7 separate regions of the Homo sapiens genome follow, and regions 2, 3, 4, 5, 6 and 7 are each linked to region 1. The links come from fine-mapping of genetic effects on gene expression. A gene starts in region 1. Each other region holds a variant in brackets. All regions are shown on one strand. Distances are from middle to middle.

What was found. PIP is the estimated chance that this variant, and not a neighbour inherited with it, causes the effect.
Region 2: its variant is fine-mapped to the expression of B4GALNT3 in whole blood (TOPMed, PIP above 0.99).
Region 3: its variant is fine-mapped to the expression of B4GALNT3 in thyroid (GTEx, PIP above 0.99).
Region 4: its variant is fine-mapped to the expression of B4GALNT3 in lung (TOPMed, PIP 0.98).
Region 5: its variant is fine-mapped to the expression of B4GALNT3 in tibial artery (GTEx, PIP above 0.99). The same link has a PIP of 0.9 or more in ovary.
Region 6: its variant is fine-mapped to the expression of B4GALNT3 in whole blood (INTERVAL, PIP above 0.99).
Region 7: its variant is fine-mapped to the expression of B4GALNT3 in nucleus accumbens (GTEx, PIP above 0.99).

Annotation. Positions count from the first base shown.
Region 1 is chr12:457,894-461,958 of GRCh38, forward strand. B4GALNT3 (beta-1,4-N-acetyl-galactosaminyltransferase 3) reads left to right here and starts at 2,046. Exons shown (of 20, transcript NM_173593.4): 1 at 2,046-2,652. The coding sequence starts at 2,484. RefSeq lists an enhancer at 1,214-2,197.
Region 2 is chr12:547,544-551,608 of GRCh38, forward strand. B4GALNT3 (beta-1,4-N-acetyl-galactosaminyltransferase 3) reads left to right here. Exons shown (of 20, transcript NM_173593.4): 8 at 481-559; 9 at 688-754; 10 at 2,226-2,369; 11 at 3,379-3,488. Among named protein-coding and RNA genes, the nearest start is that of NINJ2-AS1, 81 kb to the right of the region's middle. The variant A/G (reference allele first, on the strand shown) is at 2,162.
Region 3 is chr12:494,419-498,483 of GRCh38, forward strand. All of the region lies in intron 1 of B4GALNT3 (beta-1,4-N-acetyl-galactosaminyltransferase 3), which reads left to right. Among named protein-coding and RNA genes, the nearest start is that of B4GALNT3, 37 kb to the left of the region's middle. The variant T/C (reference allele first, on the strand shown) is at 2,303.
Region 4 is chr12:504,613-508,677 of GRCh38, forward strand. All of the region lies in intron 1 of B4GALNT3 (beta-1,4-N-acetyl-galactosaminyltransferase 3), which reads left to right. LOC124902852 (a long non-coding RNA gene) reads right to left here and starts at 3,558. Exons shown (of 3, transcript XR_007063150.1): 1 at 3,380-3,558; 2 at 3,236-3,343; 3 at 3,113-3,163. The variant G/A (reference allele first, on the strand shown) is at 2,436.
Region 5 is chr12:479,115-483,179 of GRCh38, forward strand. The region is part of intron 1 of B4GALNT3 (beta-1,4-N-acetyl-galactosaminyltransferase 3); the gene reads left to right. Among named protein-coding and RNA genes, the nearest start is that of B4GALNT3, 21 kb to the left of the region's middle. The variant G/A (reference allele first, on the strand shown) is at 1,979.
Region 6 is chr12:554,161-558,218 of GRCh38, forward strand. It overlaps B4GALNT3 (beta-1,4-N-acetyl-galactosaminyltransferase 3), which reads left to right. Exons shown (of 20, transcript NM_173593.4): 15 at 2,387-2,706; 16 at 3,448-3,601; 17 at 3,856-3,928. Among named protein-coding and RNA genes, the nearest start is that of NINJ2-AS1, 75 kb to the right of the region's middle. The variant G/A (reference allele first, on the strand shown) is at 2,329.
Region 7 is chr12:516,656-520,720 of GRCh38, forward strand. All of the region lies in intron 1 of B4GALNT3 (beta-1,4-N-acetyl-galactosaminyltransferase 3), which reads left to right. Among named protein-coding and RNA genes, the nearest start is that of B4GALNT3, 59 kb to the left of the region's middle. The variant C/A (reference allele first, on the strand shown) is at 2,415.

The DNA of each region.
Region 1 (4,065 bases):
GTAAGAGAGGGACTCTATTTACAGGGCCCGGTCACTTCCCACTTGACTCAGCCGAGCTTGCACAGGCCGTGCACACACTGGCTGCTCCTATCTTGGACTTGTGGAAAGAAAGAAGAACATGAGAAGTACAGGAATCTGTGGCTTTGGAACTTCACAGAGACCTTTCCCAGGGGCTACAATTAGAGAATTGTCCTTTGGATTCACCCTTTTTGCTAAAGAACTGCAGTGAAAGTTCTGGAAGATGTTTGCTCAAAGTGCTACCCCCATCCTCAAACCTTCCTAAGTGCTAAGTGGACATTGTACCACCCACTGGAAATGCAGCTCCCATTTTTGAAGCCTTACAGTGAGGTTGGGAAAACAAGACTCACACACTCCAAGTAAGTTCCAACATATCAGATGGTGAGACAGATGGCAAGTTCTACTAAAGCTCCAGAAAGGAAGGAGTTGCTTAGGACTTGGCTGGTCCAAGAAAGCTTTATAGAATCTGAAATGGACCTTGGATAAAGGGTACAAGTTGACCAACTAGAAAAGAAAATGTGTTGGAGGGTAGTGAATAAACTCGTTTTAGCTGGAGCAGGTTTCATGTGGTCACATAAAGTTGGAAAAGGTTCTGGAAGGCCCTGAATTCTGGATTTACAGTGTGTATCTTAATCAATAAGCATTGGAAGCCATTAAATATTTTTGAGCAGGTGTGTGACTACATACGGGATTTTTTTTTTTTTTTTTTTTTTTTTGAGACAAGGTCTTGCTCTGTCACCCAGGCTGGAGTGCAGTGGCATGATTGTGGCTCACTACAACCTTACACTCCTCCCACCTCAGCCTCCCGAGTAAGTTAGGACTACAGGTGTGTGTCACCATGCCTGGCTTTTTATGAAGACCATCTGGTGGTAGTGGACAGGATGCGATGGGAAGCTTGGAGTTGGGGAGGCTAATTAGGAAAAGTCCTGTAGAAACTATTGAATATCCAACTGAGGTGAGAACAGAGAGAAGGGAAACATAGTTCTCAATTCTGTGAGAACCTCTGTCTTGGAACAGTACTTGTGTGATATTCATTTGATTTTAAAATGTCCAGGAACACTTTGATCCTTCACTTTTCCCATAGTCTCCTGACCATTTTTCCCAGAAGAGATAATGGAAAAGAAAACTGCAGTATAACTTGCTGAGTGACCTGGGGCAGTTATTCTGCCCCTTGATACTTTATCTAATTTAAATCAGATAATAATGCTTTACCTGCCTGAAGGCAGAGGACTGGAATACTGATTTTTTTTTTTTTGAGACAGGGTCTTGCTGTGTTGCCCAGGCTGGAGTGCACTGACGCAATCACGGCTCACTGCAGCCTTGACCTCCAGAGATCAAGAGATCCTCTTGCCTCAGCCTCTCAAAGTGCTGGGACGACAGCCGTGAGCCACTGTGCCTGGCTTATCTTGCTGATCTTTTCAACTCTAAGAGTGAATACTTTTCTTTTCTTTTTAAAATTCTTTTTCGGAACCCTCAAACACCTACTCTCTTCAAACAGCCATTCCAGCCCAGTCTGGGGAAAACTGCTTGCTGGGGTTCACCGTGGGGGCTGTACGACTTCCCCAGCGCCTCTCGGAGATGTGGTTCAGGCTGGGAAGAAAGGTCTTCAAATCTCAACTGGAAAACGAAGCTATGTCTGCGTTAAGCGTCCAGTGGCTCCCGTGATATTTCACGCCTACTGGTTTCGTCAAGCAGGGAGTCGGGTCGTTGCTGTTGGCGACGAAAGGCTCTGAGGCTAAAGCCTTGGGCGTCGCCCAAACCAGCCTCTACTTCGCTTCTGCCTAAAACCACACCGTTAGGCGCCTGGGTGGTGACTCGGTTTCCCTCGGTCACCCAGAGTCCGCATCATCACTCGCCCCCTCCTCATCCCACCCGTTCCCAGTCGGGGGAGGCACCAGGCACCAGTTCTCTGGCCCCACCTCTCGCTCCCCTAGGGAAGCCGAATGGCCTCTTCGCGTCCCTGGCTTCTCGGGGGCGGAGCCCACCTGTGCCCGGGGCGGGGGCGGGGGCGGGGCCGGGGGCGGGCCAGGTTCCGCGAGCAGGAGAGCCCAGAGCCCGGAGCCCGGTCCGGGGCTGGCGGGGGCGCGGGCGGAGGCAGGCGGGCGGGCGCCGGGGAAGCCTCCTTCTGGGCAGCGAGTGAGGGCGGGCGCGCAGGGAGGGAGGGCGGCAGCGAGCCTGCGACGGGAGAGGCGTGGGGAGGAGAGCCCGGCGCGGAACACACGCGCGGAGGAGGAGCCGGGCTCGGCTCCCGGAGAGACCTGCTGGGCGCCCGCGCAGCCCGGAGACCCCTCGCGCCCGGAGCATGAGCCCGAGCCCCGCCGGAGAGCGGCCGGGAGAGACGGCCTCGGCGCAGCCCTGAGACGCTGGGCCGGGACGCGGGGCGCCCTGGGCGCGGGGCCCGGCCGGGGGGCGGCGGCTCGGGGGGTTGGAGCCCGCGCTGGCGGCGGCCGCCTCGGCGCAGCGCCATGGGGAGCCCCCGGGCCGCGCGGCCCCCGCTGCTCCTGCGCCCGGTGAAGCTGCTGCGGAGGCGCTTCCGGCTGCTGCTGGCGCTCGCCGTGGTGTCTGTGGGGCTCTGGACTCTGTATCTGGAACTGGTGGCGTCGGCCCAGGTCGGCGGGAACCCCCTGAACCGGAGTAAGTAGCACCCAGGGGAGGCGAAGGGCGCGGGGGTGGGCGGCGGCGGCGGCTCCTGCGTTGGGGGGACCCGCCTCTCATCCCATCCTCAGACCCGATTTCCCACCCATTTCTCCCTCAGGTGCCCGGCGTCGCCCCGCGCGTACTCGGGGAGAGCTGCGGGCGGGGGAAGCCGCGGGGCCGAGCGCAGAATTCCCGAGCCCGGGCCTGCCCGCCGGCCACGTGGGTCCGGGGCACCCTGGGGGCTCCTCGCGTCTCCCCTCGGAGAGCGACCCGGAGAGAGGCTCCCCGCCCGTCCCGCCGAGACGCTGGCGGAGACCGGGCCCCTCCAGCCGCTCCGGGCTTGCGGTTCCCGGGGAGGAGGTCCGTGGGGTCCACGCGCGAGCTAGGGATTCGGGTGCGGGATGCCCTCGGCCGTCCACACCCAGGCGCGCGCTCCAGTCCGCGCAGCCCAAACTTTGCCCACCGCCTTCTGTTTGGCTCACTCCGTTTCCTCTCCTGCTGCATCTTCTAGGGGGGTTCTTTTTTACCATACCTCGGAGAGTCCCGTCTCTTCCCCGCTTCCCATACGTCGCTCCTCTCCCAGCCTCCGTCCTCGGCTCTTTGAATCTCCCACCTCCTCGCTGCGCCCTCTTTCTCCTGTTCGGGCCGCCCCTTCTGCCACTTTTCTGAACCCTGAGCAAATCTACCAAACTCCCCAGTTTAAGGAGATGATGGACAGCACAGTGGACCGGGCAGCAGGTAGATTCCTACTTCTGTTTTTAACTTAGCCAAAGCCACTTAATATTTCCGTGCCTCAGTTTCCTCCTAGGAAAACAGGAGAGCGTGGTCTCTTTGCCTTTTTACATCAATAGGTATGGCTGTGCGAGGTGGTTTTCAACGTACTGTGGATGGGCCTAACAAAGTAAAACTGACAGTGACAGGGGCCGTAAAAGATCCTGTAATAGTTGGGAAAAGAAATGGAGAAACTCCCGTTACTACCAGGTGCCCAACGCAAGCCCGGGGAGCCGAGGTTCAAAGTTCTGGCACGTGGCCTCCCATGCCTTCACTTTCCTCCCGCTTTGGGGAAACTCGGACAGAGTGGCTGAGCAAGCAGCTGAGAAGATACTCTGACTCTGACCTGTCGTCGTGTCAGCTTCTCTACCCAGAGTTGGGTGTGGTGCTGTGCCTTCTCTTGTGGCCAAAGAGAGAGAATTACTAGGGACAGTCGCTGAGCTGGTTCAGGTTGGAAATGTATATTTATGGCCTAACCTTTCTGTGGTGATGGAAATCATTCCGGCTGTGAGTTAGAGGAGACTGGCTCTGCCACTAACTAGCGGGGGAATCAAGGGAAAAACGACAGCTTCTCAGGTGAAAATGAGGCCTTTGGTCCAAATGATCTCCAAGGTGTCTTTCAGTCTGGATACGAAGACT
Region 2 (4,065 bases), 90 kb after region 1:
GCTGCCGTGGTGGGTACGCCGTGTGCAGCTCCGCAGAGCAGCTGGTGCGTGGTCCCTGGGGCAAGTCGGCCGGCGGAATCCCACCTCCACCCCTCATCACTCTGGCAGACTACCCAAGCCTTCTGTGCCTCTGTGTTCTCCTCTACGAACAAGGATTACATGAGGTCACATATTGAAAGCATTTAGAACAGTGTCTGCCACAGTCTCTGAGCTCTAACGGCTTCTGTTACTGTTCTTTGGGTTCTTCCGATCATCCTGTGGAGGAGGTACTCTGATTATGCCCATCTCACCAAGAGAAAACAGCTCACACTGTTAGCAAGTGATAGAGTGGGGGCTCGAACCTAGGCAGTTAACTCCTGGCATTCTAAGAGCAAGGAGAAGGGATGAGGGAGTGTAAGGTGCTGGAAGGGGGTGGGACAGAGCCGCGACCCCAGGGCCCATGGAGATGGCGCTCTGCTTCCCTGCCCTCTCTCCCGCCAGCCTGTCAGCCTCCCACAGGTACTACTTCGAGGTGCTGCACAAGCAGAATGAGGAGGGCACCGACCACGTGGAAGTTGCAGTGAGTTTCCTGCTGCTCCCGCCTCTCCCAGCTCAGTTCCTGGCACTCATCTCCCCTTGTCCCTTGACCCCTGTTGGAAATCCAGCTACCTCCCACCTTCTGCATCTACCCTCTCTCTCCTCTTCCAGTGGCGACGGAACGACCCTGGAGCCAAGTTCACCATCATTGACTCCCTCTCCCTGTCCCTCTTCACAAGTGAGTAGGCTCTGGCCCTGCCCTGGAGATGGAGGCCAGGTGGGGACAGCCTACCCTGGGGGATTTGGCAGGGGAGGAGGGGAGGAGGGGAGGAAGGAAGCTCGAGATGCTTGGGACACGGGTATGAAGGGGTCCAGAACAAGAGTGGGACCTTATGACCAGGAGTCCTTAACTCCCCAGGGTCAGTGACCCCTTTGAGAACCTGCTAGAAGCTCTCTGAGCCCTTGCCTCAGAAAAATGCCCTTGTCTACCCACCCACACACAACATTTTGAATACAACTTCAAGGGAGTCCAGAGACTGTGAGCTCACACCAGATCTAAAAACTCTGAGGCTGGGTGCGGTGGCTCATACCTGTAATCCCAGCACTTTGGGAGGCCGAGGTAGGAGGATTGCTTGAGCCCAGGAGTTCGAGACCAGCCCAGGCCACATAGCGACACCTCATCTCTACAAAAAATTAAAAAATTAACTGGGTGTGGTGGCGCATGCCTGTAGTCACAGCTACTGGGAAGGATCGCTTGAGCCCAGGAGTTCGAAGCTGAAGCTACAGTGAGCTGTAATTGGGTCACTGTGCTCCAGCCTGGGCAACAGAGCAAGACGCTGCCTCAAAAGCAAAACAAAACAACACAAAAAAACCCTCTGAGCGAGTCCAATCCCCTATTTTCCAGATGAGGTAACCACGGTTCTTGCAAAGCCATGGCCAGGGCAGAGGAAACCTGTTCACCTGCCTTCAGTGCACAGGAAGCGACCTCTTTCTTCAATGGCATTTTCCATTTCATATCATTTCCTCAGTGAGACTCCCATCCTCAGGCCCCGTTGAAAAACATGCCATCCATAGGCCTCCGTGGCAGGTGTAGACAGATGCATGAACCCGGGAGACAGAGAGCAAAGAAGCAGCCAGCCCCCCACCCCCCTTCTCTGTGGCTGCTTTAACCTGGATGCTGAAACTAGATCACCTGGCTTCAAACTCAGCTTGGCCACCCGTCTGTTGTATGATGTTGGGCAAATGACTTAGATTCTCTATGCCAAAGTTCCTTATCTGTAAACTGGGAATGATCGTAGTACAGAAGGCATGTGGTGCTTTTGGAGATTAGAAGGGTTCATATTTGGGATATTCTTAGAGCAGGGCCTGGCTTATTATTAAGTGCTCTGTAAGCGTTCAATAAATTAGGCGTACTTAATGCCACATTTCTAGCAGTCCGCAGTAACACATTTTGAGAAAGAGGTGTCTTTTTCCGAGTACGCAACACAGTCGTGTGGGTCAGCCGTGGGGCTGGCAGAGGGGGCCGAAGGCAGATGAATCGTGAAGCCACCGCTGTGGCGGGGGCCAGAGGGAGTGTGGCTGCGCACATCCTACACCGTCGCCGCTGGAGTCAGGAGCCCCTTCTGCGTCTCTTCCCTCCCCTTCA[A/G]GGGCAGTGGGCTGCTGCGCTCCAGGCCACACAGCCTCCTGCTTTCTTTCCTCCCTGCGCCCAGATGAGACGTTCCTACAGATGGATGAGGTGGGCCACATCCCACAGACAGCAGCCAGCCACGTGGACTCCTCCAACGCTCTTCCCAGGGATGAGCAGCCGCCCGCTGACATGCTTCGGCCTGACCCCCGGGACACCCTCTATCGAGGTAAGGCCTCGGCCAGCGCTTGGCGTCCTTTCTGGGGACACTGCACTGCCAGGTCCACTGCTGATGGTGGAGAAGGCTTGAGAGACCTGCCAAGTATCCCAATCACCGTAGAACTTTTTATCGTCCTTGTAACATAGAACATGCATACAGAAAAGAGAGCATGTAAATAAGTATAAAATATTTACGTGTAATTTTACAATTCTGCATATCATTACAGAGTGAACGTTTGTGGAACCACCACCCACAACAAGAAATAGAGTTAGAACCCGGAAGTCCCCCACACATCCCTTCCCAATCTCACACGTCCCCGCCTCTTACTGCATTCCAACTCTTGTCATCCAAGGAGAGAAATACGTGGACACCACAGTGTTAGAGTCTTAATGCATGATTCCTCTTGGGAGTGTTTACATTTTAAAAGACGGCCAAGATGGCCAGGCATGGTGGCTCATTCCTGTCATCCTGGCACTTTGGGATGCTGAGGTGGGAGGATCGCTTGAGCCCAGGAGGTTGAGGCTGCAGTGAGCTGTGATTGAACCACTGCACTCCAGCCTGGGTGACAGAGTGAGATCCTGTCAAAAAAAACAAACAAACAAAAAAAACAACAAAGTTTCTTTACTCCTCACCCCTCTCAAAAAAATGACAACTGACGCTAAGGGGATGTTCAGCCCATGGTAGGAAATCCAGTTATCGGTACTGTACGAGGGAGGGGACCTTCTGGCCTCTTAGAAGTTTCTAGACCTTATTGAGGCTATCCCTGCACAGTGACTCTAAGATCAAACGGTGCCTTGTACCTGGGGCTGTGTGCTGAGTCCTCTGCTGCCAGGGTGCTCCTCAAATGGCCCTGCTCCAGGTGCGTGGGGCAGCCTCCAGCTGGCAGCCTCAGCCACAGACGTCGGCAGAACACAGCTGCCGCTTGCGAATACAGAAAGGGCCCTGCTCAGGGCAGAGGACTTCAGCCCCAGTTTCGTGCTCACCCTCACCCTCACTCCTCCTCCTCCACTGTCCTCAGTGCCTCTGATCCCCAAGTCGCATCTCCGCCACGTCCTGCCTGACTGTCCCTACAAACCCAGCTATCTGGTGGATGGGCTTCCTCTGCAGCGCTACCAGGGACTCCGGTTTGTAAGTCTTGGGCCTGGGTCATGGAGAGCAGGGCTGGCAGAGGGATTGCTGCCTGTGACTGGGATGGGAGGTGGTGAGGCTGACTTTCCCATCTTCCCAACATCCCATCCCAGCAGACAGGACGTCCTCACAGGTCCCTGGGCTGGGAAGAACTTGCACTCCCAGATGGACCGCCCTGAATAGACTGTCCAGCAGAGCCTGCACGTGGGTGCTCTGCCTCAGGGCCCCCCAACACACACCAACTCAGCCCAGCCCCGTGATGATATCAGGTGGCCTGGCTGAGGCTTCTTAAGCTCCCTGCTCCAAGGGCCACACAACCCTACCCTGCCTGGTCAGTCCCGCCAGCTAGTGAGCCAGCAGGACTTACTAAACCCAGAGACCAGGCACTGGGGGAAAAAGAGCTATGGAGGGGAAGTTAGCTTTAAAGAACCCAGAACCCATGCGGAAGCCAGACAGGCAGCGTGGCCACTCTCCTGTGCATCCAGATCTAGAGATGATTATAAGGAAGAGCTGGAGGGCAGAAGAAAGAGGTCAGGAGGCATCACCAGGTCAGAGAATGGCTGGGGTGTAATTGAGA
Region 3 (4,065 bases), 37 kb after region 1:
TTAAACTAAATTCTGCTTAACCAGCTCTCACACTGAACTTAGAAGCCAAGAGTTCAGGAGTATGAGCGCTGGAGTCTCCCTCCCTCTTCCTCCATTTTCTACCATCCCATAGTAGTCATGCAGGATTGGGTGGGACCATAGCTTAAGGTGTTGAGGCCAGCACCCAGGTATAACTTGTATGGCTTCGGAGAATTTCCTGAGCATATGGTTTTCCCCATCTCAGAGACCCGTGTAGTACTGGACGCTGGGACATTGGAACAGGAGTGTAGGAGAAGACCCACAGATTGTCCCCTTGTCACCAGCCCTATCAATCAATGCACACCAAAAACTGGAGCACCAGGCTCCTGAGGCAGTGATGGGGGGAGTAAACTGGAAAGGCTGACTGGGGCCTAATGTGTGCGGGGGGGAGTCTTTATTCTTATGTATTCTTTGATAACAGAATCATTAATGAGAGCATTGTCCGGATTTAGTCTCAGGTTTCACTCGTTAGGTTGAAAATGTGAAAAGCCTCTACCCCTTTAGCTACAAGTGAGGAAACCTGGGTATAAAAAGGAGGCCTGGAGTTCTTGTTCTGGCTCTGCATAGCGTAAGCACAGTGCCGGCATTTTACTATTAAATAATAAGAATGTGTGGACCACTTTCTGTGTTCCTGGCACAATGGATGCACTTTGTATGTGGCAGCTCATTTCAATCTCAGAGCTTCCTTCTCTTTTACAGATTAAATAAACAGAAGCTCAGAAAGGTTAAATAACTTGTCTCAAGTTACACAGTCACACTGTAACAGCCAGGATTTGAAACCAGGTCTATCTGACTTCAGAACCCATGCTCCTAGTCACCTCAGGTCTGCCCCCTAAAAGGGTTTGCTTTAGGGGTTCAGTTTCCTGGGGAGGGGTTTCCAGTTGCTCTCTTTGAGGTTTCTCATTTCCTCCTGAATTCTTGGGTCGTTCTTTTTCCCCTTAGTCCCCCTAACTTTCTTTGTAAACCTTAGTTCAGCTGATCAATGTACCCTCCGCCAAACGTACCGTAAGAAACAAAAGGGTCATCTAGACCTCAGGCATGCAATAGGTGAGGTAAAATTACCTCTAAGGTTGCCTCCTATTTTCAGCACTTGGAAGTACCTGCTGTGTTTCTAGGCCTATGCTTGGGGCTGTTGTGTACAGCTATGCAGGTTGTTCACTGCAGAGATGCTCCCTTCTTAGGGGGTGAATGCGGACCAGACTCTAGCATGAGCTTCACTTGCCAAACTGCGTGCCTGAGGGGAAGGCACAAAGACACTGGATGGGTTAATGGTAGCCCTGACTCTGCTGGGCTCAGGGGTAAGTCTGGCCCTTGGGTAGCTTTCTTATCTTTATTTAGAAAAGTATCCCCATGAAATAATGGAAGCCGGGTCTGCAGCTCTGCTGTGTTGCAGGTAGTGTGAGGAGTGCAGCAGGTGCTCAGCTACCAAGAATTACAAGAAGATCAATGTTCATGAATGATATACATTTGAAAAGTTTACATGTATTAAACTTTATTGACAGTATATATTTGTGTTTATATGTGCACATCTATAAATATAAAAGCAGATTCACATCATTCTCCTCCCTTGTATTCCAATACACTTTCTTGAGGGGTACATAAAAGGTTGGAATTTGTTAGCTCCTTCAGAGTTGCAGAGAACCCTAAATATGCCCATATATGTGTCATGCCATGTCCCCTGTCCAGGATCATGGCAGAAAAAGATCCAGAGCTGTGGAATTCGCGAACAAATGGTAGCAATGTAGTCCCTTGTCCATCTCTAGCTCTCACTTTTCTTTTCTGGTATCCAGCAGCCTTGGTCCCTGGGCTCCCTGGATGTCTTCATTTACTCTTAAAAAAAAAATTGAGCTGGATTTCATGTAACATTAACTTTTAAAGGGTACAATTCAGCGGTGGCACATGCATGTAGTCCCAGCACTTTGGGAGGCCGAGGTGGGCAGATCACTTGAGGTCAGGAGTTCAAGACCAGCCTGGCCAACATGGTGAAACCCCGTATCTACTAAAAATACAAAAATTGTCCAGGCGTGGTGGCACACACCTGTGATCCCAGCTACCTGGCAGGCTGAGGCAGGAGAATTGCTTGAACCTGGGAGGCGGAGGTTGCAGTGAGCCAATATTGCACTCTGCACTCCAGCCTGGGTGACAGAACAAGACTCCATCTCAAAAAAAATAAAAAAATAAAGTGTACAATTCAGCGGCATTTAGTACATATACAATGTTGTACCACCGTCACCTCTGTCTAGTTCCCAAATATTTCCGTCACCCCTAAAGGAGACTCTGCCCA[T/C]GCGCGTTAAGCAGTCACTCCTTCCCCTTCCTCAGACCCTGGCAACCTCTATTCTGCCTTCTGCGTCTGTGGATTTACCCAGTCTTGTGTGTGGCTTCTTTCACTTAGCATGACGTTTTCAAAATTCATCCATGTGTAGCATGTTAGTACTTCATTCGTTTATTCTATTTATTTAGAGACAGGGTCTTGCTCTGCCGCCCAGGCTGGAGTGCAGTACAGATCACGGCTCACTGCAGCCTCCAATTCCTGGGCTCAAGGGATCCTCCCACTCAGCTTCCTTCACTTTCAATTTTTTGTAGAGACGGGTTCTTGCTGTGTTTCTCAGGCTGGTCTCAAACGCCTGGCCTCAAGCGATCCTTCCACCTCAGCCGCTGAGAGTACTGGGATTACAGGCGTGGGCCATCGCTCCTGGCTTTCATTTATTATTATTATTTTTTTAATTATTTTTTTGAGACGGAGTTTCGCTCTTGTTGCCCAGGCTGGAGTGCAATGCCGCGATCTCGGCTCACTGCAACCTCCGCCTCCCGGGTTCAAGCGATTCTCCTGCCTCAGCCTCCTGAGTAGCTGGGATTACAGGCACGTGCCACCATGCCTGGTTAATTTTGTATTTTTAGTAGAGACGGGGTTTCTCCATGTTGGTCAGGCTGTTCTCACTCAGGTGAACCGCCCGCCTCGGCCTCCCAAAGTGCTGGGATTACAGGCGTGAGCCACTGCACCTGGCCCCTTCATTTATTTTTAAGGCTGAATCATATTCCATTGTATGGATATGCCACGTTTTGTTCACCCATTCATCTGTCAATGGACATTTGGGTTGCTTTCACCTTTGGCAATTGTGAATAATGCTGCTATAAACACTGGTGTACAAATATTTGTTTGAATATCTGTTTTCATTTCTTTTGGGTATAGACCCAGGAGCGGAATTCCTGGGTCCCGTGGTAACTCTGTTTAACTTTCTGGAGAACCGGCTTTGTTCATTGTTGTTGAGCACCGAGCCAGGTGGTCACTTTTCCTCATGCTTGACCTCCCGCTCTTTGTGTCTAAGTCAGGAGGTAGTCATTTTGTTTGTCTTGTTTTCAGCACCAGCATTCCCAGGCCCTGCATCCCTGGGCTGTTTTTGTTGCTCTCCTGTTCAGTAGCACAGCCACTCTAGAAAGTGTTTTGATTCTTTACCCTAACCACTTCCTAGCCTGTTTACAGCCACTGGATTCCTAAAGTCTCCTCCTGGGTATGACACACACTCGATTTCTCAGTCTCTTCTGATGCCTCCCCACCCACAGCTTCCAAACCCACCCCTGATTTCCCATTCAGTGACTAAACAATAAACAAACCTTCCTCTACTTCTCCAGTTTTATACACACACGCCCCTTCACTGCCCTGTCGGTTGCGAAGTTCTTCATGCTGTCTCCTGGGCTTACTAGTACCTTGGCAGTGCCCCACAGTTGCCCCTGAAGAGAGATTGTTTTTCTGTCTTTCCATTCGATGCTGTTTCTGATTGCGTATCATGAAGCCAGCCTTGTCACTGGCTCTTCCTGCCGCTGAGAGGTGATTTTGAATGAGATGCTATCCCTCCCCAGCTACCTCTCCACCATGTCCGCCCAAGTCCAGTTGTCACCCAGAGCCCAGACACTTCAGAAGCAGCTCACTGAGAGGCCACTGTGTGCTGGCTTTGGATGCTCCAAACCCTCTACCATGCACTAGAATGATGCCCTCTGGACCACGGTTAATTTAAATAACTCCATCTGTGGCCCCATCTCTAGTTGACT
Region 4 (4,065 bases), 47 kb after region 1:
CATGGCTGGCTAATTTTTAGCCCGGGAATTTGAGTCTGCAGTGAGCTTTAAATTGCACCCCTGCACTCCAGCCTGAGCAACAGAGTGAGATTCTGTCAAAAAAACAAACAAACAAAAAAACCCCACATACTGTTATTAATTATCATCACCATGTTGTCAAATCTTCTCTTTCTGAACCCTTCTGCCCTTAATTCCCTTAACCCTTCTGTCTCTTAACCCTTCTGCCCTCCCCCACAAAAACCCTTGTGTGAAAATGTAGTCTTAAAAAGAATTCATCACAGGTTTTTTTTTTTTTGAGATGGAGTTTCGCTCTTGTTGCCCAGGATGGAGTGCAGTGGCGCGATCTCGGCTCACTGCAACCTCCGCCTCTTGGGTTCAAGCGATCCTCCTGCCTCAGCCTCCCGAGTAGCTGGGATTACAGGTGCACACCACCACGCCTGGCTAATGTTTTCTGTATTTTTAGTAGAGACAGGGTTTCACCATATTGGCCAACATGGTCTCAATCTCCTGACCTTGTGATCTGCCTGCCTTGGCCTCCCAACGTGCTGGGAGTACAGGCGTGAACCACCACGCCTGGCCTCACCAGAGGTTTTAACAGATGTTCTATACTATGTAATGAGTGAATTAATTAGTTATTTGGTAGCTCTGTTTTGAGACAACTTGGGGCTTCCCTCTCCTCCTAGAATTAACTAACAGCTGGTGAAAGAGCAGAGGGACAGTGACCACCAGGCCAACCTCGCCCAGAGAACTGACAGCAGCATCAGCGGCTCTTACAGCAGCCCCCTTTCCTCTGTTCCCACTGCAGCCTCCAACCCTGGACTCCCTAAGCCCAGAGGGGAAAGGAAGGGCCGTCTGCCCAGCCATTTGAACCCTGATCCATCTTGGATTGGAGAATTGCTTTGGAGAAACCTGAAATCAAGAATTGGCGCTTGCTGAGATTTGCCTGGGGGAACATTTGCCCCATCCTTGAGTTTGGCTTTTGCATTTTCTGGCCTTTCTCATGCTTTCCTGTCCATTTTCAGAATGTTCCCACTGCATGAAGTATTGTCTCCCTGCCACACTTCATTGTCATGGGGGAGAGTGTCCTGAAGACCCTTGTTTCATGTTGCTGGGGCCCAGGATTGCTGTCTGCAGAGAGATAGGGGTCTGAATAGGTCTACCTCTCAAATTATCCTGCTTCTGGGGTTGATAGGAGTTGGGGGAGGAGACTGAGGAGCTGGAGACAAAGCTCTGTGGAACCCACCAAGGATTTTAAACCCTCTCCCATGAAGAGCCCTAGATCAGTGACAAGTGGGAGAGTTGCCATTTGCAACTCCATCCATCTATTTTTGTCTTCTTTCATTTGCATAGATCTGAGCCAGGTAAGCATCAGCTGATACTCTTCTTATAAATCAGATTGTAACCCGATTTGTCTGTCTCATTTTTTTACCCTCTAATACAGCACAGGTACAGTATGCCTATAGGTATGTCCCTGAAACATTCTATGCAGTTCAGATTTTTTTTTTTTAGGAACTATTTTAAATTCATTAGGCAGGCTTTATTATTTCAGGCATCCATGATGGATCTGCTAGCAACAGGAAAATCGTTCTTCATTTGTGTGTGTTTATTATCAAATCATAGAGTGTAACACTTACAATGGTCCTTAAATATCATCATTTTATAACTAAGAAAACCAAGGATCAGGAGGTCACTGGGATCACAAAGCCAGTGAAAGAACAAGGACCAAAACCTTGGTCTCCTGACTTCTAGCCCACTGCTCTTTCAATCACAGGGACAATGAAATACAGAGAAGTTTAAAACTGTTATCTTCCTATATTTTCATTTCCATCTCTTTTTTCTACTTAAAAACATTTTATTTCTATTTTTTAAAATTCAAAGGTATATAATATTAAAAGGTGCTTTCACAGAAGTAAGCACCATAAAAAATTCAATATGCCTTCTAAGTGTTTTCTATGCCTCTGTGATGCCTGTACACATACACATAGAGGCTCCTATACTTACAAGTGCATTTTTATTTATTTTTTATTTTATTTATTTTTTTTGAGACAGAGTCTCACTCTGTCACCCAGGCTGGAGTGCAGTGGCGCGGTCTCGGCTCACTGCAAGCTCCGCCTCCCGGGTTCACGCCATTCTCCTGCCTCAGCCTCCCGAGTAGCTGGGACTACAGACACATACCACCACGCCCGGCTAATTTTTTGTATCTTTAGTAGAGACGGGGTTTCACCGTGTTAGCCAGGATGGTCTCGATCTCCTGACCTCGTGATCCGCCCGCCTCGGCCTCCCGAAGTGCTGGGATTACAGGCGTGAGCCACCGTGCCCGGCCAAGTGCATTTTTAAATGAATTTTTAATTTTAGAATAGTTTTTCATTTACCCAACATTGCAAAGGTAGTCTGGAGAGCTCTCACTTTGCTCACACCCAGTTTCCTCTATTATT[G/A]GCATCTTGCATTAAGCCCCGGTACATTTGTCATGATTAATGAACCAATATCGGATGTTATTATTAACTCAAGTTCATACTGTATCCTGAATTCCTTTCAGATATCCCTTTTCTGTTCCTAGACCTCTGTAGTCATTGGGTCTCCCTAAGTTCCTACTGGCCATGACAGATTTAAGCGTTTTTTTGATAGTGTCACTTTTGTGATATATATGGCAACCTTTTTTCACATAACTATATGTTTTGAACACCTTTCTGGGTTAGTGTGTGTGGCCTTCCACACCCTTTTAACTCACCACAGTGTTCTGTTGAGTGGCTTTACCCCATCATTTTACACTGCCCTTGGCACAGAGCCCCCGTCTGGAAGTGTCACTGGGCCTGGGTGCTGTCTGGTGGATTAGACAGACGCTTCCACTGTCTTGGAATTTGGACACTGTGGGAACAGAGAACATGGATGTAAATGACCTGACAGAGCTCAGAGAAAAGGAGCCACGTGGCCTGGGGCACTGCTGTTGTGGCGACCCTTCACCCCACGCCCTCCACCCTACATCCCTCACCCCACACCCTACGCCCTGCGAGTGGCTCTGTGTTTACATACAAGAGTTTACATCTGTGGTGGAAGCACTTTCTCACAAAAGGGTAGGGCTTATTCTAGGAGGCCCTACCAAAGAAAAGCACTAGGTAGCAGCATTCCAGCTGTAGGGCCCGTGACTGTGGCATGCGGAACATTCCTGCCCCTGGAAATCCAGTAGTAGCTTGGTGGACGTCTGTCCCTGGAAATCCAGTAGTAGCTTGGTGGACACCTGCCCCTGGAAATCCAGTAGTACCTTGGTGGACACCTGCCCCTGGAAATCCAGTAGTAGCTTGGTGGACACCTGCCCCTGGAAATCCAGTAGTAGCTTGGTGGACACCTGCCCCTGGAAATCCAGTAGTAGCTTGGTGGACACCTGTCAGGAGTGCTTGAGTAGAGCGTTGATACTAACCTGTGAAAGAAATTTCTCATGATCATCCATTGTAACTGGAAGAGATCTGAAAAATGACTCGGCCCAAGGTCCCACAGCCAGTGGAGACAGAATGTCTTCTCTTACTGTCTTTTCCGCTGGCCCTGCCAGCCCAGACCTGTCCCTAGGGGGACATCCAATTCATATTCGTTAATGAAGAGAAAGCTTCCAGATCCTTCAAGGTGTCTCTGTTACCTCAGAAGGTCCAGTGCATATTTTGAAACAACTTACTTTTGTTTTTTTTAGACAGGGTCTTGCTCCATCACCCAGGCCACCCAAGCTGGAGTTCAGTGATGCAATCATGGCTTACTGCAGCTTCGAACTCCCAGGCTTGAGCAATCTTCCCACCTCAGGCTCTTGAGTGCCTGGGACTACAGGTGTGTGCCACCATGCCTGGCTAATTTTTAAAAATTTGTTATAGAGATAGGGTCTTACTACATTGCCCAGGCTGGTCTCAAACTCATGGTCTCAAGCAATAAAACAGCTTTTTAATGTTTAAATTATACCCGAGGTTTGGTTCTCTGCAGATGTCCCCCAGAATTGGGCACAGCCTCCGATCGGCCTTATTCCTCTCACTTAATATTTGTCACTATTCCAAACCCCATGTTCAACACTTCACCCATTACCTTTTC
Region 5 (4,065 bases), 21 kb after region 1:
GTTCAGAAGCTCAGCAGGCCACAGGAGACAGCCTAGAGTCTCTCTGCAGTGACCTGACTCTTGGTGAAGGTATTTTGTTTCATGGCTGTGGCTTTTTTTTTATTATTATTTAAATGAAGCAGGGTCTCACCATGTTGCCCAGGTTGGTGTCAAACTCCTGGGCTCAAGCCATCATCCGACCTCAGCCGCCAGAGTAGCTGGGTTACAAGCACGTGCCACCGTGTTCAGTGATGGCTGTGGCTTTGATGGTGTCACTGCCCCACTCTGCCCAGATCCCTTCCCTGAACTGTTGTTCTTGGACTGCCAAACTGGGTAGGGGCAGTAGGACTTTGAATCTGGTCATCAGCAGTAAAAGGGGATATACTTAGGGGACCTTTGGTCACCTAACAGCCAAGAAGAGAAACAAAGTGAAGTCAGGGAAATATGGGGGACAGGATCTTACTTCTAAGGACTCTCGATAAGGGGGAAGTTGAGCAACTGTGTCAGGTGCAGATAAAAAGTCTGGAAGAATGATACCTGGGAAGAAACCAGCACGTTTGGCCAAGGAACAGGGAGAGTTACTGGTGAATTGTGTTAACTGAGACGTGCCGCAGCAGGAGGACGGCAGAAGCCACGTTGTAGAATCATAGAGTATTTAGGCTGGAGGGGAACACCGTGTCCAACTGAGGCCTTTAGTGGTCGGGTGATTTCTCTCTCGTTTTTGCTCATGTAAGTGCAGTGGATCCTGGAGTTTGTTACCAGGATGGGGAGTTCTATTCAGAACTGACCAATTAAAAAAAAACCAACCAGGATGGGGAGTTCTTTTTTTTTTTTTTTTGAGATGGAGTCTCGCTCTGTCGCCCAGGCTGGAGTGCAGTGGCGCCATCTCGGCTCACTGCAAGCTCCACCTCCCGGGTTCACGCCATTCTCCTGCCTCAGCCTCCGGAGTAGCTGGGACTACAGGCGCTCGCCACCACCCCCTGGATAATTTTTTTGTATTTTTAGTAGAGACAAGGTTTCACTGCGTTAGCCAGGATGGTCTCGATCTCCTGACCTCGTGATCCGCCCGCCTCGGCCTCCCAAAGTGCTGAGATTACAGGCGTGAGCCACCGCGCCCGGCCAGGATGGGGAGTTCTATTCAGAACTGACCAATTAAAAAGGAAAAAACATAAGTCCTTTTTCTCTTAAGCATATGGTTAGGGTAAGAATACTCTTGTGGGATTCAGGCTGTGTGGGGTCCAGTCTTGGTTCTGTGGGAACTGGCTCTGTGACTTTGAGCAGGTCAGCTCTGCCCCCGGACGTCAGTTTCCTTTTCCGTAAACACGGAAGGCTTGACGGTGTGGTTCCTGAGGTCCCTCTGACCCTGACATTACGGAAGGCTTGACGGCCTGGTTCCTGAGGTCCCCCTGACTGACATTATTCCCAAAGAAAATGCATTGGCCTTAGCACTGGGGATTCTGAGTTGGCCGTGGCTGGAGAAAGACTATGATAAGGAGCCCTGGGGAGATGCCTGGGTTCCTATTGGTGACCTCGCCTTCTCGTTCAAGCAGGACGGGGAGTGGGACCCAGGCCCAGCCTTATCTCCGGGACCGCGGCTGTCCTCACCCCTCCTCCTGTCACCTGAGAATAAAAGGGTGGGCTCCATAGGCGGGGGCTGTGAGGAGGGGTGCAATTGCATGGGTCATGGACGATGGTCCTTAGACATCTCTGGGGAGCCTTTGGCGGGAGAGGCGCAGGGACTTGGGGGCACTTCCCCAGGCCCTGGTGACCGTGGTCATCTTTGTCACAGCCTCCTCCTCTGCCCTTGCAGGCCAAGGACTGGACCAGTCCCTCTCAGCCTTGCCTCTATCTCTCCCTGCCTGCTCGGCAGCCAACACAGAAACACTGCTGTGTGCTTAGCCCAGGGGTGGGAGGGATTTCTGCCCAGGGATTGGCCATGGAATTGGCTGCTTATTTTGGCAGCTCCCACCACAAAGACCATCAGACGCTGAGGGAAGGC[G/A]AGGTGGGAGTTAGTGAGTCATGGCCATGCCTCAGGGAGGGAGGGAGCTTTCACCAGAGGTGCCCCTGGAGGAAGCAGACTTCCCCTCCAAAGAAGAGGGGTGGGACTCTGGATGCTTCCTCCCAGGGTCACTGGCTTAGGTCAACTAAGGGGATGAGCATCCCCGTGGCGTTCTGTGTAATGGGAATAATGGCCCTGACCTCACAGTGCCGTGGCAGCAAGTTGAAAAGCTAGCACATCAAGCTCTCAGTGAAGGGTTGCTTTCCTTTCCTTGGTGTGCCTTAGGATATGACGGGGTAGGCACCATGGGTGCAGACATGGAGGAAAACCAGAAGCAAATCAGGAGTCCAGCTGCCCACATCCAGTCACTCTTGATTCTCGTGGTTTCTCCAGTGCCCAGCTGAGGCTGGCCATGGTGGGAAAGTGGGACTTTGCTCTGTGCTGCCTTCTCCTAACCCTGTGTTGTCCTGAGGCCAGGCAGACAGGCCCCAGTCATTACCTCACCGCAGGGCCCCTGTCTGCCAGAGTGCATGGTGGAGCTGCCTGGGTGGAGAGCGGAGCTAATTTTAGACCTGGAGACTCTTTGCCAACAGCTGTGGCTGGGCCCAGGCAGCTGGGCTGGATGGCTGGGGGGAGTCTCAGCCGCCCTGCAGGGAGCCCTGGACACAGCGCTCCAGGTCTGCTCTTGGGGGCATATTCCTGCCTCAGCCTCAGCTGTGGGGAAGCCTGGATGAGGGTCCCTCTGCACAGAGGGTGCTTCCTTCCTCCCTCTTGCATCAAGATATTTCTGTCCTCCATCTCCTCTTTCTAGGTGGCTTTGTAGACCAGAAAACATTGATACGGCATCTTAGATGGTAGGTCAGTGGGCCTCTGAAATGGGGCAGGTAGGGGCAACAGGAAGAAAAGGGTGTCCCCAAATCGTTCTGGGTTTATAGGCTAAATCCAGCCTCCCACTCAACCCCGAGCCAATAATCTAATTGAGTGCTTCTCAACCTCCTTCCTGTTAGTACACAGAGAAAATGACAGGAAAAGATACTTGTAACACACATAGGGGTATAAAGAGGTTTGTGGTTGGATGTTGCCAGCCCTCAGATTCTGCTGCTCCAAGCACTGAGGGCTGATACTTTGGGACACGTTACCATTTGGAGCCTACTAGCAGCCACAGCACACCAGTGGGGAAGCTCTGATATCGTCCGTCAGTGGCTTGCCACAGTCCATGTATGCCAAGTCCAAGCTTCAGGAAACATCTCCTTGGCTAATCATAGACCTGTGCTGGAAGGGAACCCAGAGAGCATTGAATCTGTGCTCTCCTTTTACAGATGAGGAAACTGAGGCTGAAAGAGGCTTGTCCAAGGTTAAAAAGCTAGTAAGTCAAAATCCCAGTTTTAAGTTCTGTTAGGACAGTCATCCCTTCATTTATCCAACATTTATTGAGTTCCAATAAAGATCAATATTTGGAGGATACAATGATGAAAAAAGTTGTGGGGATTCGTCTGTATTTGGTAAAGAGAAAACCAAGGAAACCATTCAGGAAGGTCGTTATTTCCGGTGAGAGAGATGGGGATGTGATTGGAGAGAGGCACAGAGGGCTTCAAAACGTGTCTGTTTCTTAAGCATATGCAGCCAGGCACCGTGGCACACACCTATAGTTCCGGCTACTCAGGAGGCTAAGGTGAGAGGTTCACTTGAGCCCAGGGGTTTGAGGCTGAAGTGATGTATGATAGAGCCTGTGAATTGCAACCACATTCCAGCCTGGGCAACATAGTGAGACCCCATTTCAGAAGGAAAGAAAGTGTACACAGGTGTTATTCTTCTTTTCTCTCTTTTTTTCTGGAGACAGGATCTCACTCTGTCACCCAGGCTGGAGTGCAGTGGCATGATCATGGCTCACTGCAGCCTTAACCCCCTGGGTTCAAGTGATTCTTCCACTTCAGCCTCCTGAGTAGCTGGCACTACAGGTGGATGTCACCTCATCCAGCTAATTTTTTTTTTCCCTTTGGAGAGACAGGGTCTTACCGTGTTGCCCAGGCTGGTCTTGAACTCCTGGGTTCAAGCACTCCTACCACCTCAGTCTCCCAAAGTGCTGG
Region 6 (4,058 bases), 96 kb after region 1:
GATCTTGACCAGGCAGGTGTTTGTCCCGCCATTAGGCAAGGTTCTGAAATCCCTGGGTGCCTGGCCCAGTACGTGTGTTGAGGACTGGAAGGACTCAGTAGATGAGGTCCCCTCCTCCGAGGAAAGAGCTAGTAAATAGACAAACAGGCAAAACAGAGGCTAGAAAAATACAAATTAAGACCCTGCATGTGGGCTGGAAGGGTTAGGGCGTGATGCATGACTGGAGTTCTTTGTGTTTTCATTCATCCATTCATTCAACCAGTCAACATTTTTTACGATAAAATTTATATAACATTAAAATCACCATTTTAAGGTGTACCTTTCAGTGGTTTTAAAAGTATATTTACAGGCTGGGCGCGGTGGCTCACGCCTGTAATCCCAGCACTTTGGGAGGCCGAGGCGGGCGGATCACGAGGTCAGGAGATCGAGACCATCCTGGCTAACACGGTGAAACCCCGTCTCTACTAAAAATACAAAAAATTAGCCAGGCATAGTGGCGGGCGCCTGTAGTCCCAGCTACTCGGGAGGCTGAGGCAGGAGAATGGCGTGAACCCGGGAGGCGGAGCTTGCAGTGAGCTGAGATTGCGCCACTGCACTCCAGCCTGGGCGACAGAGCAAGACTCCGTCTCAAAAAAAAAAAAAAAAAAAAAAAAAAAAGTATATTTACAGTGTTGTGCAAGCATCACCATTGTCAAATTCCAGAACGTTTTCATCATCTTTGAAACAAATTATACTGGCCAGACGCAGTGGCTCACGCCTCTAATCCCAACACTTTGGGAGACCGGGGTAGGTGGATCACTTGAGGTCAGGAGTTTGAGACCAGCTTGACCAACACAGTGAAACCCCATCTCTAATAAAAATACAAAAATTAGCAGGGCTTGATGGCATGCACCTGTATCCCCAGCTACTTGGGAGGCTGAAGCAGGAGAATCACTTGAACCCGGGAGGTGGAGGTTGTAGTGAGCAGAGGTCGCACCATTGCACTCCAGCCTGGGCGACAGAGTGAGACTCTGTCTCAAAAAAAAAGAAAAAGAAAGAAAAAAAAAAAGAAACCGTATGTGTTAGTGGTTACTTCCCATTCCTCCTCCTACCCCCAGTAGTGTCTGGCAATAACTACTTTCCTTTCTAGCTCTGTGGATTTTCCTATTCCGGACATCTTATGCAAATGGAACCATGTAATGTGTGGCCTTTATATCGGGCTTTTTGCAGAATATTCACTTAGCACAAGTTTCATTCGTGTTGTAGAATCTATTAAACACTTCATTCCTCGATATTGCTGAGTAATATTCTATTGTGTGGATATACCACATTTTTCCATTCATCCGTTGAAGGACATGTGGGTTGTTTCTACTTTTTGACTATTACAAATAAAATGCTGCAATGAACATTCATGCACAAGCTTTTATGTGAACATACTTTCAGTTGTCTTGGGTATATATCTAGGAGTAGAACTTCTGGGTCATATGGTAACTCTGTTTAGCATGTTGAGGAGCTGCCACTCTGCTTTTTAAATCAACTGCATCATTTCACATTCCCATCAGCAGGGTATGAAGATTCCAATTTTTCTACATCCTTATCAACACTTGTTACTTTTCATTTCATTGTGTTTTATTTATTTTTATTTTTATTTATTTTTTTTTTTGAGACGGAGTCTCGCTCTGTCGCCCAGGCTGGAGTGCAGTGGCGCGATCTCGACTCATGCAAGCTCCGCCTCCCGGGTTCACGCCATTCTCCTGCCTCAGCCTCCTGAGTAGCTGGAACTACAGGTGCCCACCACCACACCTGGCTAATTTTTTATATTTTTAGTAGAGACAGGGTTTCACCATATTAGCCAGGCTGGTCTTGATCTCCTGACCTTGTGATCCACCTGCCTTGGCCTCCCAAAATGCTGGGATTACAGGTGTGAGCCACTGCACCTGGCATTGTGTTTTGTTTTAAATAGCCATCCTGGTGAGTGTGAAATGGTATCACACTGTGGTTTTGATTTTTATTTCTCTAGTGACTAATGATTTTGAGCCAACCAATTGACATCTGTCTTATAACTCATTTTGTCTTATGGAATGTTGATTCGACCGTTTTTATTGAGGGTCAGTTTCTCAGGGAACCTCTTCAGTGTGACCCCTCTTATTCAGCTCATGTACTTAGAATCTTGGAGCTGTAAAAGACCTTCAGGATCATCACAGCTCAACAGGTACATTTTCAAAGAGGGAGGCAGCGAACCCTAGAGAGATTGCGAATCTTGCCTGAGGCCCTATAGCCAGCCAGTGGCAAAGCTAGGACAAAAACCAGGGTCTCCCAACAACTAGCTTTGCAGGCTTCTCACACACC[G/A]TGCTACCCTCCCAGTGTGGAAAGGAACCACTCAGCCTCCCCACACTTTCTGCCATAGGAGGTACCAGCTACAGCGCATTGTGAACGTGGAAAAGCGTCAGGACCAGCTACGTGGGGGTCGCTACCTCCTGGAGCTTGAACTGTTGGAACAAGGCCAGCGCGTGGTGCGGCTCTCGGAGTATGTGTCTGCACGAGGCTGGCAGGGCATCGATCCAGCTGGTGGGGAGGAGGTCGAGGCCCGGAACCTGCAAGGCCTGGTCTGGGACCCACACAACCGTAGGAGACAGGTCCTGAATACCCGGGCCCAAGAGCCCAAGCTGTGCTGGCCTCAGGGTTTCTCCTGGAGTCACCGAGCCGTGGTCCACTTCGTCGTGCCTGGTGAGCCTCAAGCTGAGCCTCGGCATTCTCAGGGGCGGGGTCCTCACACTGTCAGGAGCACCCACATCTGCTTGCACTGATTTGATCCCATAAGCACTTCTGAGAAAGACCACCTTATAGTTGAGGAAACTGAGGCTCACAAAAGGAAAGTCACTGGTTTAAGGTTATGTGGCTAGTAAATGTTGCCGCTAAAAACAAACACTGCCTCATAGGCCAGTGCTCTTTCTTTCGTACTAGGTTTCAGGATTGGGTGTGATAACTGGGGTTGCTAACACTGGGGATGATCATTGGTCTGGGGAAGTAAGACGGGCAGCGTACTTAATGAAGTGATGAGCAGGGTTTTATATGAGAAGGAGGAACACACAACAGGCAGAAGTGTAACAACAGAGGTAGGATGATGGGGATAGGACGACGATACTAAGAGGGACAGATAACAGGGTTTCACTAGTAGAGCGTGGCAGGGCTACTGACAATGAGCCCCAGCCAAGGCCTTCTCGTGGGTCCCCTGCCTGGGAGGAGGGAACGTGGGGAGCAGGATGCAGAGGCCCCCTTAACTGGTGAGCACTCCCTCTGCCTCATGTCTCTGTGCTGCACTGCTAATGGTTTTGCAGAGTTGCACTGTCCCCTCAGCCGAGGTCCGATGGGCACTCCTGACTCACCTGGGAGCTGGGGGTGGAGGCGCTCATCCGCTCATCTTTGCCTTGTCTGTGTTTCCTTCTCCTGCCTGACCCCCTGGGGTAGTGAAGAACCAGGCACGCTGGGTACAGCAATTCATCAAAGACATGGAAAACCTGTTCCAGGTCACCGGTGACCCACACTTCAACATCGTCATCACTGACTATAGCAGTGAGGACATGGATGTTGAGATGGCACTGAAGAGGTCCAAGCTGCGGAGGTGAGGGGGACCACCAGCCAGGGGGTGGCATGGGCCACGTCCATCCTAAAGTCCTAGGGCTGCTGGGTCCAGGGTAGAGCCAGGAGTCCTGCCCAGCCTTCCTGATTCCTAGTCTCCAACTTTTCCCAGAGGGCTCACCTGCCCATAATCCCATCCCAGGAGCACACATCATCTCTCTTCTATGCCTGCCAACTTCCTCCAGGGGACCACCGCAGCTGAGTCCTGATACGCAGCCCTCTCTCCCCTTCCTGCAGCTACCAGTACGTGAAGCTAAGTGGAAACTTTGAACGCTCAGCTGGACTTCAGGCTGGCATAGACCTCGTGAAGGTAAAGGGCCTGGATGGGGCCTGCGAGATGGAATTCAAGGCTGGTTAAGAGGTAGAGAGACATTTGGGGTAAATGAGGTGGTGAGCCCCTCAGGGAGGACGGGAATGAGGACACAGGAGGTCCTCTCTGC
Region 7 (4,065 bases), 59 kb after region 1:
AAACGTTACTCATTGGCCATCAGAAGGATCTTGGATTGTATTTGAGTGATTTGGGAAGTCACTGGAAGGTTCCAAGCAAGGACTGGCATGGCCTGACTTACATTTTGGTGGAGTTCCTCTGGCTACTAGACCATAGGTGCAGGGGTGGATACAAGGGGACTGGAAGAGCGATGATGTCTAGGACTGGAGTGGTGGAGACGGAGGAGGGAGAAGTCATCAGATTTTGGATGGCTTTTGAAAGTATGGCTGATGAGACTTGCTGAGGGATTGGATATGGGGAGAGGAATCAATGAGGGATTGGATATGGGGAGAGGAATCAAGTAGTTTGAAGATTTTTGACCTGGGTGGTTGGAAGGCTGGAGTTGTCATTTACAGGATGGAGAGGTGCAGGTTTGGGAGGAAAAATCAAGAGTTAGGTTAAGTTTCAGATGCCTTTGGTATCCAAGTGAGAGAGTGAGTAAGAAAATTCACTGTATAAGCGGGGAGTTCAGGCTAAGGCTAGGGAAGTCATCAATGTACAGATGGTGTCCCAAAAAACCTGCTGAGATCAGCAAGGCAGCAGTGTTGATGGCAAAGACAAATATCGGGGACTGACCCTAAGGTAAGCAATCCAGTGTTTAAAGGTTAAAGGAAAAATGAGGAGCATTTAGCAAAAGGATAAGGAGTAGCCCATGGGAGAAGATCAGGGATTACAGGGGAATCATAACCTTCTGCTTGACACACTTCTGTACTCTGTGATTTAGGGGGAGGGAGGTAAACATATGTTACTTGTATTTTAGAAACAAAGCTTCTGGGTTCCAGTCAGGGACCCAAGACAGGTGTCTTGTGGGAGGCGAGGGGGTTGGAGGTGGCCCTGTAAAATCTAGGTCTCTTTAGGGACAGTGATGTTATTTCCGTTTTATTTTATTTCAGTGATTTATTTACATTCCCAGACCCAGCAATTCCACCTTCCCCAAAATGCCTATTCATGACCTACTTCCCCATGATGTCTTCCCTGACCACCAGGATCCTCCTCTCTGGATTCCAGGAGACTTTGCTCAGTGCTCAGTTATGTACTTGTCATGTTATCAAACCCATCCTTCCTGCATGAAGCAGGGCTGTGCCATGGGGAAAGCATAGGAGAGGCAGGCTGGGTGTGAACTCCAGTCCAGCCATGCATTAGCGGCCGTGGCAGGACCATCAGCCATGACTTATCAATTCCTCACCAGTGGGGCTCCACAATACTGGCTTCACAGGATTGGAATGAGAATTAACCAGGCAGTAGTGGGAAGAGTGAGGTCTTTGAAACCAAACAGAATTAGTTTGAATCCCAGTTTAGCTACTTTTAAGATCTGGGGCAAATCATGTAAACTCTTTAAACCTCAGTTTTATCGTTAGGAAAATGGGGAGAATAGTACCTTACAGGGCTGTTGTGCATTGGAAATTAATTCATTCATTTACCTAATTCATCTTTCCAGCTGAATTATGAGGGTAGAGGGGTGAAACAACTGGGCTTTAAGATATTAAGGAACTTGCCAAAGGTCACAAGCTAAAAAGTGGCAGGGTGGGAATTCAGTTCCAGATCTTTCTGCTCTGAAAGTGGTTCTTACCCATCTTCAATCATCCACTCAGAGCCAAACAAGGCAGCTATGCGCAGTTGTCTCTTGGTATCCACGACGGATTGATTCCAGAATTCCCCATGGATACCAAAATCCGAGGATACTCAGGTCCCTTATATAAAATATGGTGCAGTATTTGCATATAACCTACATACATCCTTCCATATGATTTTTTTAAGACTCTGGGTCTCACTCTGTTCCCCAGGCTGGAGTGCAGTGGTGATCATAGCTCACTGCAGACTCCAACTCAGGGACTCAAGCAGTCCTCCCTCCTCAGCCTCTAGGACCACAGGCGTGTGCCACCATGCCCGGCTAATTGTTGTTGTTGTAAAGATGGGGTCTGTTGTGTTGCTCAGCCTGGTCTCCAACTCCTGGGCTCTAAGCTATCCTCCCACCTCAGCCTCTCAGAGTACTAGAATTACAGGCATGAGGCACTGTGCCCAGCCCCTCCCATATACTTTAAATCATCTGTAGATTACTTCTAATACTTAATACAATGCAATAGCATTTGCAGTTACATAGCATTGTAAATAGTTGTCATGCTGTGTATTTTTAACTTGTATTTTCTATTATCGTATTTTTTATTTTTATTTTTCTGAATATTTTCAATCGCTATTGGTTGAATCCACGGATATGAAACCTGCGGGACCTGTGTATACCAAGGACTGACGATATACATAATAGATGCTCAGAAAATCTAGCTTGTTGTCTGCCCACGTGGCTTCTTCTTTAAAGTCTCTTTTAAAGCTTCCTTCCCACTGTAAGCCATTTCGTGCAACCATCAGAATTCTAATAAACTGATCCAAGAAGCCAATT[C/A]AAAATAAATGTCAGACTGTGCAGTCTTTGTGAGAAGCCTGTATCTGTTTTTACATGCTGGTGAACTCCAGGGAAACCTAGCTCAGTGCCTCAGCCCACTCAAGGGAATATTTGCATCTTACCCTACAAATTGCCTACAACAGGCTCTTTGAAAGATGGAAAACATATTCCCCTAAGACCTGGGAAGGCTAAACAGTTAATAGCTTCTCAAGGGTTTTATGTATTACTAGGATACCGGCAGCTATCACAGGTCATTAAATATCAAAGTTTATGCTCAAGAAGCCAAAAGAAAAACAATCCAGCTTCTCTGTGCCTCAGTTGTCTTCACAAATACCCCAACTAGGAGAATGTTCCAGAAACCATTTAAGCATCATGCAGGTAAAATGAGAGTCGCACAGATCTGAAGGGTTCAAATGTTCACCGCTGGCAGAACGCGGCTCAGTGGCAATAAGGCTCCCTCCCCTTTCATCCTGGAGCTTTCTCCTAGTATTGGCTCCTTCCCCAAAGCGTCTCTCTTTTCCTTTCTGCTTTTTTTTTTTTTTTTCCGGTAAGGATCAGAGTCATCCATCCCATCCCAAGCAGTTTTTATCAGCTCATCTTCTGAGATATCCTTGATTTTCTCTTTGATTCCCACCAGACCTTGTTGATGTGTTGGTTCACTGAGGCTCTTTCAGCCGAATCAGGGACACAAATTTAGGTTGAGCGACTGCTGTTTCTTAGCAACTTAGCAACTGCAGTCTCATCAGCAAAAGGTGAGTAGAGGTGAGCTCCTCACTCAGCCCTCAACAGCGCTCGCCATAACCCTTGGGTTGTTTCCATGGAAAGTACTCTCTCATTGGCCGGGTTAGTCCCTTTCATATTCTCAGCTTTCTACCCTCTTGTTATGTCCTCTGTGTAGGGGAATTTCAACATATATTTGACCTAGCATTGGTTCTATTGCTGTCTCCACTTCATACTTCACTGTTTATGGTTCGGGCCAGCTGTCATGTCCCTCCAGCATGGAGTTAGACCTGGATCGACGCGCTGGCTCAGGGAAAAGGGAGTGGTGGGAGAAATTGCTGGGGGTTAGGGGCAAGACAGGACATGGGATAGAGGGTTTTGGAGTAAACTTTTATCCTCTAAAGCTATCCATGCGTCTTAGCAACATCTCTGTTGACCCAGCTATACATGGGTTAGATAGAGTTGTATAGAGCAGTTCCCTCTGGTCCTTTGACCCGTGATTTTAGCAAATGTGTGAGGCTGAGGACTATAGAGATCTTTGAAACTGATAACAGTGTCAAACAATGTAACTGGCCTGGTTTTCCAGGAGAGATGAACTATTTCAGACATTCTATTGCCATAGCCAGACCACATATCCTGATTTTGAGTTCAGAAAATATGGTTATTAACACATCAAATAACCAGTTGATTTAGTAAGGTCCTCACTTTTCTATTATCATACTTTTCCCTGTAGACATAGAGCTGTATGGGATGTAAAAATCCTGCTCAGTAGTTTAATTGGCCATCATAACGGCCGATGTCTCATTGCATTGCTGAAAGGTAAGAGTAGATCAGTAGAAATTATCTTATGGGATTGTGACTAATAGTATCTGAACTAAAGTAGGTATTTTGACAATTTTCCTGAGGCAGGAGAATCTCTTGAACCTGGGAG